Regions from separate parts of the Homo sapiens genome. Here region 1 is linked to region 2. Evidence: fine-mapped expression QTL. A gene starts in region 2. The other region holds a variant in brackets. All regions are shown on one strand. Distances are from middle to middle.

Region 1 (5,371 bases), 36 kb before region 2:
ATTGGGCCTCCGGAAAAAGCGATTTCCAAGTGTGTTCCGCAGGTGCCTGACGGCGAGGATCCTGTGCGCATGCGCCCACCCACCGAGCCTTAACTGTGGGAATTAGGCATTCTTCCTAAATGGTTTGACCTCGGGCCCTTTTAAAATCTTAATGCTTGTTAACAACATCCAAGGCCATGAATATACTTCGGGAAATACAGTCTATTACTCTTTTTTTTTTTTTTTTGAGACGGACTCTTGCACTGTTGCCCAGGCTAGAGTGCAGCCGGGCGCGGTGGCGGGTGCTTGTAATCGCAGCCACTCGGGAGTCTGGGGTCGCTTGAACCCGGGAGGTGGAGGTTGCAATGAGCCGAAATGGTGCCACTGCACTCTAGCCTGGGCGACAGAGCGAGACTCCCTCTGAAAACAAAAACAAAAACAAAAACAAAAAACAAACAAAACCCCCACACATTAGTAGTAGTTATTACCGTGGTCTTCCAAAGGGATTTTTCTCTTTCAAGCAGCAGTTTGGGACTCTTACCTGTTGTTTGCTGGTTATTACCCAATGGTCCAAGGAGTGAAATTTTTGAAAAACTAAACACTAGCTAGGTGTCACCACGAAGTGAACGCTGAATATAAAAGTCATCATTAATATTCATAAAGTAAGTCAGTGGAGAACAATGACTACATTGGTTAAAATCTGGTTTGCACAGAATATTTTAGGAAAACATTGTTTAGGACCCAGTATCCTCCCTCAGTGTGGAAGTCAGTGAATGAAAATTGTATTTGACAAGTTGTTCTTTAAGAAGACACTGCTTATGTGAAATGAAGTCAACTTGAATCCAGTTATGTGTGTCTGTCTCTTACATAAAAAGCCCAGAGGTAGGAATTACAGAGTTGGATGTGCTATGGTCTAAATGTTTGTGCCACCCCTACAAATCCATATGTTGAAAAAATTTTTTTTTCCTTTGAGATGGGGTTTCACTCTGTCACCCAAGCTGGAGTGCAGTGATGTGGTCATGGCTTATTGTAGCCTCAACCTCTCAGACTCAAGTGATCCTCCCACCTCAGCCTCACAAGTAGCTGGGACTGCAGGCATGCCACCACAGCTGGCTAGTTTTAAAACTTTTTATAGAGATGGGGTTTCCCTGTGTTGCCCAGGCTGGTCTGGAACCCCTGGGCTTAAGCAATCCTCCCACCTCACCTCCCAAAGTGCTGGGGTTATAGGCATGAGCCACCATGACTGGCTTGTATGTGGAAATTTTAACCCCCAATTTTTTTTTAACTTTCATTCTCAAAGGAGGTGATTAATCCCCAAATGATGGTATTATGAGGTGGGCCCTTTGAGAAGTGATGAGATGAGGGTGAAGTCCTCATGACTGGGATTAGTGACCTTATAAGAAAGGCCCAGAGAGCTCACTAGTTCCTTTCTCTCTTTGAGGACACAGCAAGAAAACACTGGCTGGCTGGCACAGTGGCTTACACTTGTAATCCCAGCACTTTGGGAGTCTGGGGTGGGAAGGTTGCTTGAGGCCAGGAGTTCCAGACCAGCCTGGGCAACATAAGCAAGATCCCGCCGTCTCTATAAAAAGTTAAAAAAATTAGCCAGGCATGGTAGCACATGCCTATAGTTCCAGCTTCTTTGGAGGCTGAAGTGGTAGGATTGCCTGAGCCCAGGAGTTCAAGGCTGCAGTGAGCCCTGACTGCACTACAGCACTCCAACTTGGGTGATACAGCAAAACCCTATCTCCAGAAAAAAAAAGTTATCTAAAGAGAGTTTGATAGACCTAGCTCATCTCATCCTTCCCACCAGGCCCCACCTCATAGGCCACTGCCCAGGCAACAGAGTGGCCGTGTGGATCCACCTCACTGTGGCTGGGATAGGGAATGGGATCACATGGTCTGCCTGGGGCTGCCCCTTCAGTGGGGAGCTGTGGGCTGGGCATTTCATCTGTAGGAGACTGTGAGGTGAGAGGAAGCAGAGGATATTCTGTGGGAAGAATCTTCATGGACCAGGTGATAAGTGAGCTAGATTTGGAAGAATGGGTGGGATTCTAGTGAGCAGAGAGGGGTAGAACATTCCCGGAGGGGTAAAGGAAATAAAGTATATATTACAGAGCAGGGGGAGCCTCGTGTGGTTGGAGCTGGGAGGTATGGGGAGATGGGGAGGGCAGGGGGAGGGGAGGGGAGAAAGAGTGGAGAGAAATCAGGCAGCGTTGTGCTGAGGCCAGAATGGGTAGGGGCTATATTTTGGGTAAGCTGGGGGAAAGTGGAACTGATGTTCTCTGAGCTGTGCTCTAGGAATCAGAGAGCAGATGGAGGCTGGAGGTAACTGGGAAGGAGCCCACACCTTTCTGGGCATCCTTTGTCATCCATCTTCCT[A/G]TGTCCAGGCAGGAGCCAACCTGCTCTCCAACCTGGCTTGCACTTGGCTGAACAGACAGTCACTGCCCACTGAGTACCCGTGGGCTCTTCTACCTTTCCAGAACCCTGGCTGCTGGCCAGTGGGCTAGTGCTGGCCAATTGGCTATAATCGGAAGTGTGACCTATATGTGAAAGCAAACAGAGTCTTGGGACCCCAAACTCACTATGCCAAAGGGAAAGTTAAGTTTGGGAACTGAGTCACAGAAAAACTGCCTTCCTTTTGTTCCCAAACAGATAGCGGTAGTTTCACAATCCTGTGTCATAGCCTCATTCGTAAGCCAGGTTCCCACAACAATAGAAGGCTACATATTTCCCAAATTGTTCACAAGGAAATTCCCTGTGGGCCCCTAAACCTTTCAGAATACACATTCCCCTATAAGCTAGTTCTAAAATCAAGTTCTGTTAAACTTCACCCTGACAATGTCAATTATCAGCTTATCTTCACAGGGACAGGATAAGGACAAGACTAGAAATCATCCCTCCTCCTACCCCAAGACTTTGCATAATTGACTTGGTCCTCTGTTTCACATGTAAAAGGTACATTCACTAAGGCTAATAGGAACCTAAGATTGTATCCATTTGCCTCATTGTCTACCCTTCTAGGAGCGCAGTGGAGCGATCTCGGCTTACTGCAACCTCCACCTCCTGGGTTCAAGTGATTCTCATGCCTCAGCCTCACAAATAGCTGGGATTACAGGCATGCATCACCATGCCTGGCTAATTTTTGTATTTGTAGTAGAGACAGGTTTGCACCATGTTGGCCAGGCTGGTCTCGAACTCCTTGCCTCAGGTGCTCCACCTGCCTGGATCTCCCAAAGTGCTGGGATTACAGGCGTGAGCCACCACGCCCAGCCCCCTTACCCCGTTTTTTTTTTTTTTTTTTTCCTCTTCTGCTTGCTCTTTCCCCTTCAAATACTGAAGTTCCTGAAACCTTCCTTGGAAAAATCACAGGTTGTAGATGCTTCTGTGACTTGTTTTTGTTTTGTTGGTTTTTTTGCATCCTCAATCATGGTTAAATAAGCTTCTAATCAATTGAGACCTGCCTCAGTCACTTTTTGGTTTACATGTGTCACTACTGGATCAAAAGGTGTAAGTTCTCCATGCCCTCTCTTCCCATGCCATGGTGACTGGTGATTGTCTAGATGGTGGCTCTTCTAGCAACCTGGATCCCTGAGACCCTAGGTGGAACAGAGCCCTGCCCTTCCATCCTCTTTTCTCCACTGCACTGAGCGTATAACATGATTGAGAAATATACTTTGTTGTGTGAAGTCATTGAAGTTTGGGGCTGATTTACTGCGGTAGAACCTAGCCTCACCTGACTAATAGACCAGCTGAGGGAGCTCCTTGCTCAGCGGCATGGGTTCCCCCGACACCCCCACCCCACACAGAGGTAGGCTGGGGTTGAGCAGAGCAGGGGAGGACAGCAGGACTTTGACCCCTGGAGGATTTGGCTTGGATTTCCCTCTCTTTTTTTTTTAATTTAAAAAAATGTATTTATTTATTTACTTAGAGACAGGGTCTTGCTGTGTTGCCCAGGCTGGAGTGCAATGATGCAACCTTAGCTTACTGCAGCCTCGGACTCCTGGGCTCAAGTAATCCTCCCACCTCCGCCTCCTGAGTAGGTAGGACTACAGGAACACACCACCACATCTGACTAATTTTTTTTTTTTTTTTTTTTGTAGAGATAGGTTTGCTATGTTCCCTAGGCTGGTCTCAAACTTCTGGCCTCAAGCAATCCTCCAGCCTCAGCCTTCCAAACTGCTGGGATGACAGGTGTGAACCACCACCCCTGGCTCAGACCTCTCAAAGGGCTCACTGCCTCCAGGGGGACCACAGCTGGGCTGAGCCTGCATTGCCTGAGCGCATACACCTCCACTGTAGAGGGAGAGGGCACCTGCCAGTGGAGGTCAGCCGCAGGCAACACAAGGTGGATTGTGTCTGAATCACCAGTAGCTCTATACAGCAAGGACCCTGTCCTTGAAGCACTGAGGCTGGAGACCAGACTGGGTCCTCAAGGCAACAGCTTCAGTCACCTCCTCCAGCCTTTCCTCCGAGGGGAGCTCTGAGCAAGACAAGCTTGATCATGTTACTTCCCTACTTAAAAACCTAGGATAGGGGCCAAGCAAAGTGGCTCATACCTGTAATCCCAGCACTTTGGGAGGCCGCGGCGGGGGCGAGCGGATCACTTGAGGTCAGGAGCTCAAGACCAGCCTGGCCAACATGATGAAACCTCATCTCCACTAAAAATACAAAAATTAGCTGGGCGTGGTGGTGTGCACCTGTAGTCCCAGCTACTCAGGAGGCTGAGGCAGGAGAATTGCTTGAACCCAGGAGGCAGAGGTTGCAGTGAGCTGAGAGGGTGCCATTGCACTCCAGCCTGGACGACAGAGCTAGACTCTGTCTCAAACAAACAAACAAACACACACCACCTCCAATAGGCCAGGCTGCTCATGCCTGTAATCCCAGCACTTTGGGGAGCTGAGGCAGGAGGACTCTTGAGTCTAGGAGTTGGAAACTAAACAGGGCAACATAGAGAGACCCTGTCTCTGATTAAACAAACAAACAAAACCCATAAAAATTAGGATAAGGTCCACATACCCTGGTCAAGCTTCAAGGTTGTTTGCAACCTGGCCCCAGGAAAGCAAAGTCCTGAAGAGTGGCTGCGGCAGACTGGCTCCTTCACCATTGCTCTGCTACAGCCACTACCAAGAGTTTTGTCTTCCCCAACTCCCTGATAGGTTCATGCACCTGGACAGTGGCATAAGCCATTCCCCACACCTAGAATGCCCTCACATGTCTCCTGCCCCTTTGCCTCTCTGGCCTGCTTTCGCTCCCTCCACCCTCTAGGACTCCCTCCAGCTCCTTATGGCCTGGAGGTCCCTGCCCACAGTCCCTGCTGCCTCTCTGAGGTGCAGACAAGGGATCATCATCGTCCCCTTCCCAAACTCTGTGCCAGGCATGATGCTGGGTG
Region 2 (5,371 bases):
ACCCTGACTACAGTTCACCCCTCATCAACTATTAAATTTGAATACACCCGATTGTGCAGTGTTCCTTCCACGTGGAAAAGTTTTTTTTACTAAGTAATTGTCAGCAAGAAATTTACCTCTCATTCTGACTTATTTCTTCCACTGTATGAGCTTTTATTTTAGGTTAATCGTAATATTTGCGGAGGCTAAGTCTAGGCAACTTCTGCCCTCTAATGGCAGATGCCCTTAACAACACAGTGGCTCAGGTAGTTCACAATCAAAAGAGCTAATACAGAAGGAAATAAGCTAATCAAGTAAATGAGGGGGTAGGAACTTTATAAAACACCCAATCTCGATTATATTATTATTTTGCCAAAAACTAGGAAAGATAACCTCAAAAGTGTATTCAAGAAAGCAACACTTAACTATTTTTAAAGAATTACTAATAGTTAACTAAAATGTCAATATATCCCATTAACATTATCAGTGATATACGAGGTCTCCTTAGACCTCCAGGTAAGATTATGGCTTCAAAGTTAAACGTTTTCAATAAAACCTAATACTTAACTTTATATATAAATGATCATACAGTACATTTATTTAAGCAGTAGTTAAGTGTTCAAATGAAAAAAAAAAGTTTCTCTAAAGCAAAAAGTTTTCCTGTTATCCATCTTTTTGTTAAATTATGTGGATACATACAAGAGAGACTTTGTCCCATTTTTTTCCTGTTTTTTAATACCTGTAACGATGAGGTTTCTTCACCCCTCCAGTAGAGGGCGCACTCTTGCGAGCGGCTTTTGTAGCCAGTTGCTTCCTGGGTGCTTTACCACCGGTCGATTTGCGGGCAGTCTGCTTTGTACGAGCCATGGTACAGAGACCTCCTTACTTACCTACCAGCATTGAAAAATCAAAAATCACCATATGCAACTACCAAACATACAACTTTTCCTGCCACGATCACCCCCTCCCCAAATCTGGAAATTATGATCAGTATAAAAAATAATGTTCGTATTGTTATATAATTTGAAAGGGTGAAGATTACGTCTACCCAAAATCTCTTCTTGAAACAAACTAGAGTACTAGAAAATTGTTAGCAGTATCAATCACCTCTCAAAATGCCAATTCTGAGCGACAAACGGCAAAACAAAAATACCTCGAACGGCCTTTGATCCAATTTATTTAATTAAAGCAGTAATTAGAAATGTCTGTAAACATTCCATCCACAAACAAGTCAAAAGAAAAAAGGCACAAACCACTGGAAGGTCGAGTCAAATTACAGCAAAAAAAAGGTCTTACTCCCCCCCACTTTGGCTGCCCCCCCTTCGTCTGACTGTTGATGGATTGCTGTAAATATCTGAAAATATTCTTGGTTTTGCATCTTTACAGTTATGTTGACAAAAAGGCGTCTCGAAAAAACAAGAGAGGAACAACAGCTACCACCAGCGAGCATTCTACAAAGCCCCGTCCTCGCGTCCAGTCCTCACAGGCTTCGCAGTGAAATAAAAAGTGCCCCGCACCCAGGCTTTAATTAACGCACGACATCCGCCGACCGGTCCACCCCAAGCACCACATAAACTTTTGGTTTTGCCTCCTTCGGGTCCCTCGGCACAGGGTCCCCCAACCTGCCCGCCTCGCTCCCAGCGCCTCGAGCAGGAACCAACTCGGCTCCCCGACCAGAACAAAATGGAAACAATCGCAAAACGTATCCGATTCCGTTCCAAAGAGACAAAACACCAAATCGCTCGAAAATACCCCTATCCCCTGCCACGTGCCGCCCTCCAAAATGCAAAAGTTTTTTTTGCATTTCAAATGCATCAAGTTTCCGCCTCTCCAAAAAAGGGAAAAAAACGTCCCTCTTTTAAAAATTCTTGCTTTTTTGAAATGGGGAAGAGAGAAACGGGGGAAAAAATATGGTCGGTGACCAGAGAAGAGAGACAAGATGGTGAAGCTTAGCAACAACTGTGGGGAGGCAGCAAAAAGCGAGTTACCCCAGGGTGCGAAGCGGCGGCGATTTCCACCCCTTTCCCGCTCGAAAACTGGGGGCTGGGGCCCGGGGGCGGTAGTTAAGAGGCCCGCGCGGGTCATGGTGAAGGTTTGGGGTCCGGGGAAGGGGCGGCGGGCGGGATTTCACCGAAGAAAGAGGAGCCAGGGGCGCGGGGAGGAGGAGGGAGAGCAGGCTCGGCGCCGCGGCGGTTGCTGCTGTTGGGCTGAGGCGGCGAGAGACGGGGGAGCCGCCGCCGCCAGAGGGAACAGGGAAACTCGCTCCTCACCTCCATTTCTGGGCCAAAAAGTTTGTGGGCTAAGCCGGAGGGGCTATGGGTCCCCTCCCGGCACCGCCAGGGCCCGGCTCGGGGCTGACGGCAAGCGGGGCTCGGTTCCGGGGAAGCGGGCAGACGGGGAAACTTACCCCCCTTCTCCTTCGGCTGGAGCTCGGCGAGCGAGAGGCGGCGCTGGCGTTGGAGAGCGACGGCGGCGCGGCGGCGGCTGCGAACACAATTGAAAGATGGCTGACACCGAGGCTATCCCCCAACACACGCCGCCCCGCCCCCGCGCCGCGCGCCAGCCAATCACACACAATGGAGGGAAGGCTCGGCCCCGCCCCCATAGCTCCTCTCGCGCCCCGCCCCCGCCCTTCCCCCCGCGCGCCCGTTCGCTGGCGCGCGCTCGCCCCTCCCCCGCGCGCCGCCCGCTCCCTCCTCCAGGCCGCCTCGCGCCGTGTGTGTACAAACACAAAAGACACGCTGAGGGGCCGCCGGCTCCCGCCGAGACTGCCGCCCGCACCCGGCCAGCCCCCGCCCCCGGCCCTGCACTCCCATCCCGCTCCGTGTGCGCACGGCGTCGAACCCCCGAAGCCCGGGTTTGGGGCGCCCGGAGGGAAGTGGGGGGAGGGGAAGGCGGGCGGAGGCGCGGCGGGTGAACGCCCGGCCTGCGGGCGTCTCGGGCCGCGGCGGGGAGGGGAGGGAGGGGCTGCCCCCGCGCGGGCCCCGGCGCGCGCCCCCGAGGAGACCCGGGCGGCAGTGGGGGAGGAGGACGCGGTCGGCCGGGTCGCCGCGCCCCATTGGAAAACGCTCCCCAGCAGGAAGCTGGCAAATAGGAATCCAGCGTCCCGCGCCCGCTGTCGGACCTGGCCGCTGCGGCAGCGGGAGGGGCGGACCGACGGCCTCCTTCCCGCCTGCGCGCTCGGCCAAGTGCGGCCGGGTCCTGCGGGACCGGCCCGAGTCCGCCGTAGACAACTTGATCCGCTAAGACTCCTGGGCCGGCCGCCTGCGTGCAGGGCAGCCCCTCGCCGGTGTTGGCCTCCGGGATCAGGGGACGGGGCTCGCTCTCCTCCCGGGCCCGGGCCCCCGACGCAAGATGGCTGTGTCGCGTCGGCCTCTAAACAATGTGTGGAGCGCGCAGCTCCTGCACCAGGGCCTGGTGGCTTGTCCTGCCCGCCCGTGGGGGCCGTGTGATCTGTTTTCGGTAGGATTGCTTTGGAAAGGAATTGCCGAATATAGATAGTCAAATGTCCGCAGCTTCTGCATAGTTTAGAAGAGGCTGAAAACGGCAGAAAGAAGGCAAACGTGGTTTGGGAATTAGTACATATACCTGTTTTCCAATTCTCAGTAGCATAGGAAACGGACTTTTCATGGCCCAAGTTATCCTCACGACTTGTCAGTTGATTGGCTTTGGAACCTCTGAACCGTCCCTAGATGGTATTGACGCTTCACAACTGTGTGTAAAGGTTTTCAATGGAAGGGTCATGCAAATATCCCGTAGGGTAGTGAAGGAGGAAAATTTCATAAATGAAGGGCAGTAATTATTTGTAATCTGAAGATCTCACAAAGCGGCTTAGTGATAAACATTATCCCGAAACAGATACATGGAAATCAGATACGAGGGAAGAAATGGATTTGTCCAAGGTCACTTAAGTGAGGAAGAGACCTAGGAGAAACAAACAGACAAAAATCCAGGCCTCCCGTTTCATTATTATTTCATGAATGTTAAGTGTCCATGGTTGCTGTGCAGAACACATGCAATCTCTAATCCTATCCTAAAAGCACATATGCAATCAGCTTGGACCGAGCTGCCAGCAAAGAATTTCCTATAATTCAAGCCAAGATGAGTTATTTTGCTTGTTTTTTGTTTTGTTTTCAGGAAACCGAAATATTTATTGTTGGATTTATCCAGGAAGGCTGTTCTGCATTAGTTAAATGCATCATATCTTCAAGAAATGTTAAATGACATGGGTAATGTTTTCTTTGTATGCTGGATTTTTCAATAGCTTCTACTTCTTGGCTTTAAAAAATATTTCTAACCAAGGGTCAGACCATTTTAGGTAGAGTAATTATGATCTTAGATGATTTGAACTAACTCAGCTGTCTGTCCATTTGTGAAATGGGAATAATAATATTTATCTCTATGAAGTTAGGCCACAAATTCTTTCTAGTAGGTTCAAGTATTTAAGCACCTGGAGAGGTGACTGGTTACCCTCCTAGTGGCTTCAGGAAGTTTTCTCACTGAATGAATATTTATTGAGTGCCAACTCTGCTCAGCACAATTCAGGGGTGCTGGGAATGCAGCAGTGAATAACACAAGCAGTGTTCCTGCCCTCATGGGGCTTATGATCTCTGGAAGCACTGCTTTGCACAGGGAAGTAGCACCAGGAGGGGGTAAAGAAAGAGGGACTTTGGAGCCCCAAGATTGGCAAAAACTATAGCTAATGAGAGAGGTGAACTGTAGAGTCTAGATAATGGGGAAGGAGAGGTGCCAGAGCAAGAAGGGATTCTCACAGGGCCCTACGGGTCAGTCCTGAATTGGCTTTACTAGAACTCAGGCCCAGCACAATGGCTCACATCTGTAATCCCAGCGCTTTGGGAGGCCGAGGTGGGTGGATCACTTGAGATCAGGAGTTTGAGACCAACCTGGCCAACCTGGAGAAACCCTGTCTCTACTAAAAATAAAAATTAGCCGTCATGGTGGCACACGTCTGTAATCCTAGCTACTTGGGAGGCTGAAGTGGGAGGATTGCTTGAATTTGGGAGGTGGAGGTTGCAGTGAGCCGAAATTTTGCCACTGCACTTCAGCCTGGGCAACAGTAAGACTCCATCTCAGAAAAAAAAAAAAATAGAATTCTTGGGCTAATAATGGCCTCAACATTTGCAGTTAAAAAAGAAATGGGGAGGATGGGAGCAAAAGGTTTTAAGTTAAAATATTTTCCTTAGAATAGAGTACTTATGGCCATGAATTTAGATTTGTTTATAAGTAGAAAAGTAGAATGGAAAGGATTTTAAAAGCAACGCTATTCATATCTGCTTGGCTCCTGTCAATCAACTGCAAAGATTACTGCCTCATGGAGATGCTTCTGGTCACTGTAATGCTATCTCCATGCACACTTTATCACATTGATTTC

Evidence for each region. PIP is the estimated chance that this variant, and not a neighbour inherited with it, causes the effect.
Region 1: its variant is the best candidate, but not a certain one, in a credible set for the expression of H3-3A in cerebellum (GTEx, PIP 0.80).

The regions. Positions count from the first base shown.
Region 1 is chr1:226,095,410-226,100,780 of GRCh38, reverse strand. No RefSeq gene overlaps it. Among named protein-coding and RNA genes, the nearest start is that of LINC01703, 15 kb to the right of the region's middle. The variant A/G (reference allele first, on the strand shown) is at 2,362.
Region 2 is chr1:226,059,827-226,065,197 of GRCh38, reverse strand. It overlaps H3-3A (H3.3 histone A), which reads right to left and starts at 2,482. Exons shown (of 4, transcript NM_002107.7): 1 at 2,387-2,482; 2 at 719-869. The coding sequence starts at 846. It overlaps H3-3A-DT (H3-3A divergent transcript), which reads left to right and starts at 2,703. Exons shown (of 2, transcript NR_185887.1): 1 at 2,703-4,208. RefSeq lists an enhancer at 811-880 and silencers at 2,074-2,143, 2,762-2,927, 2,514-3,363.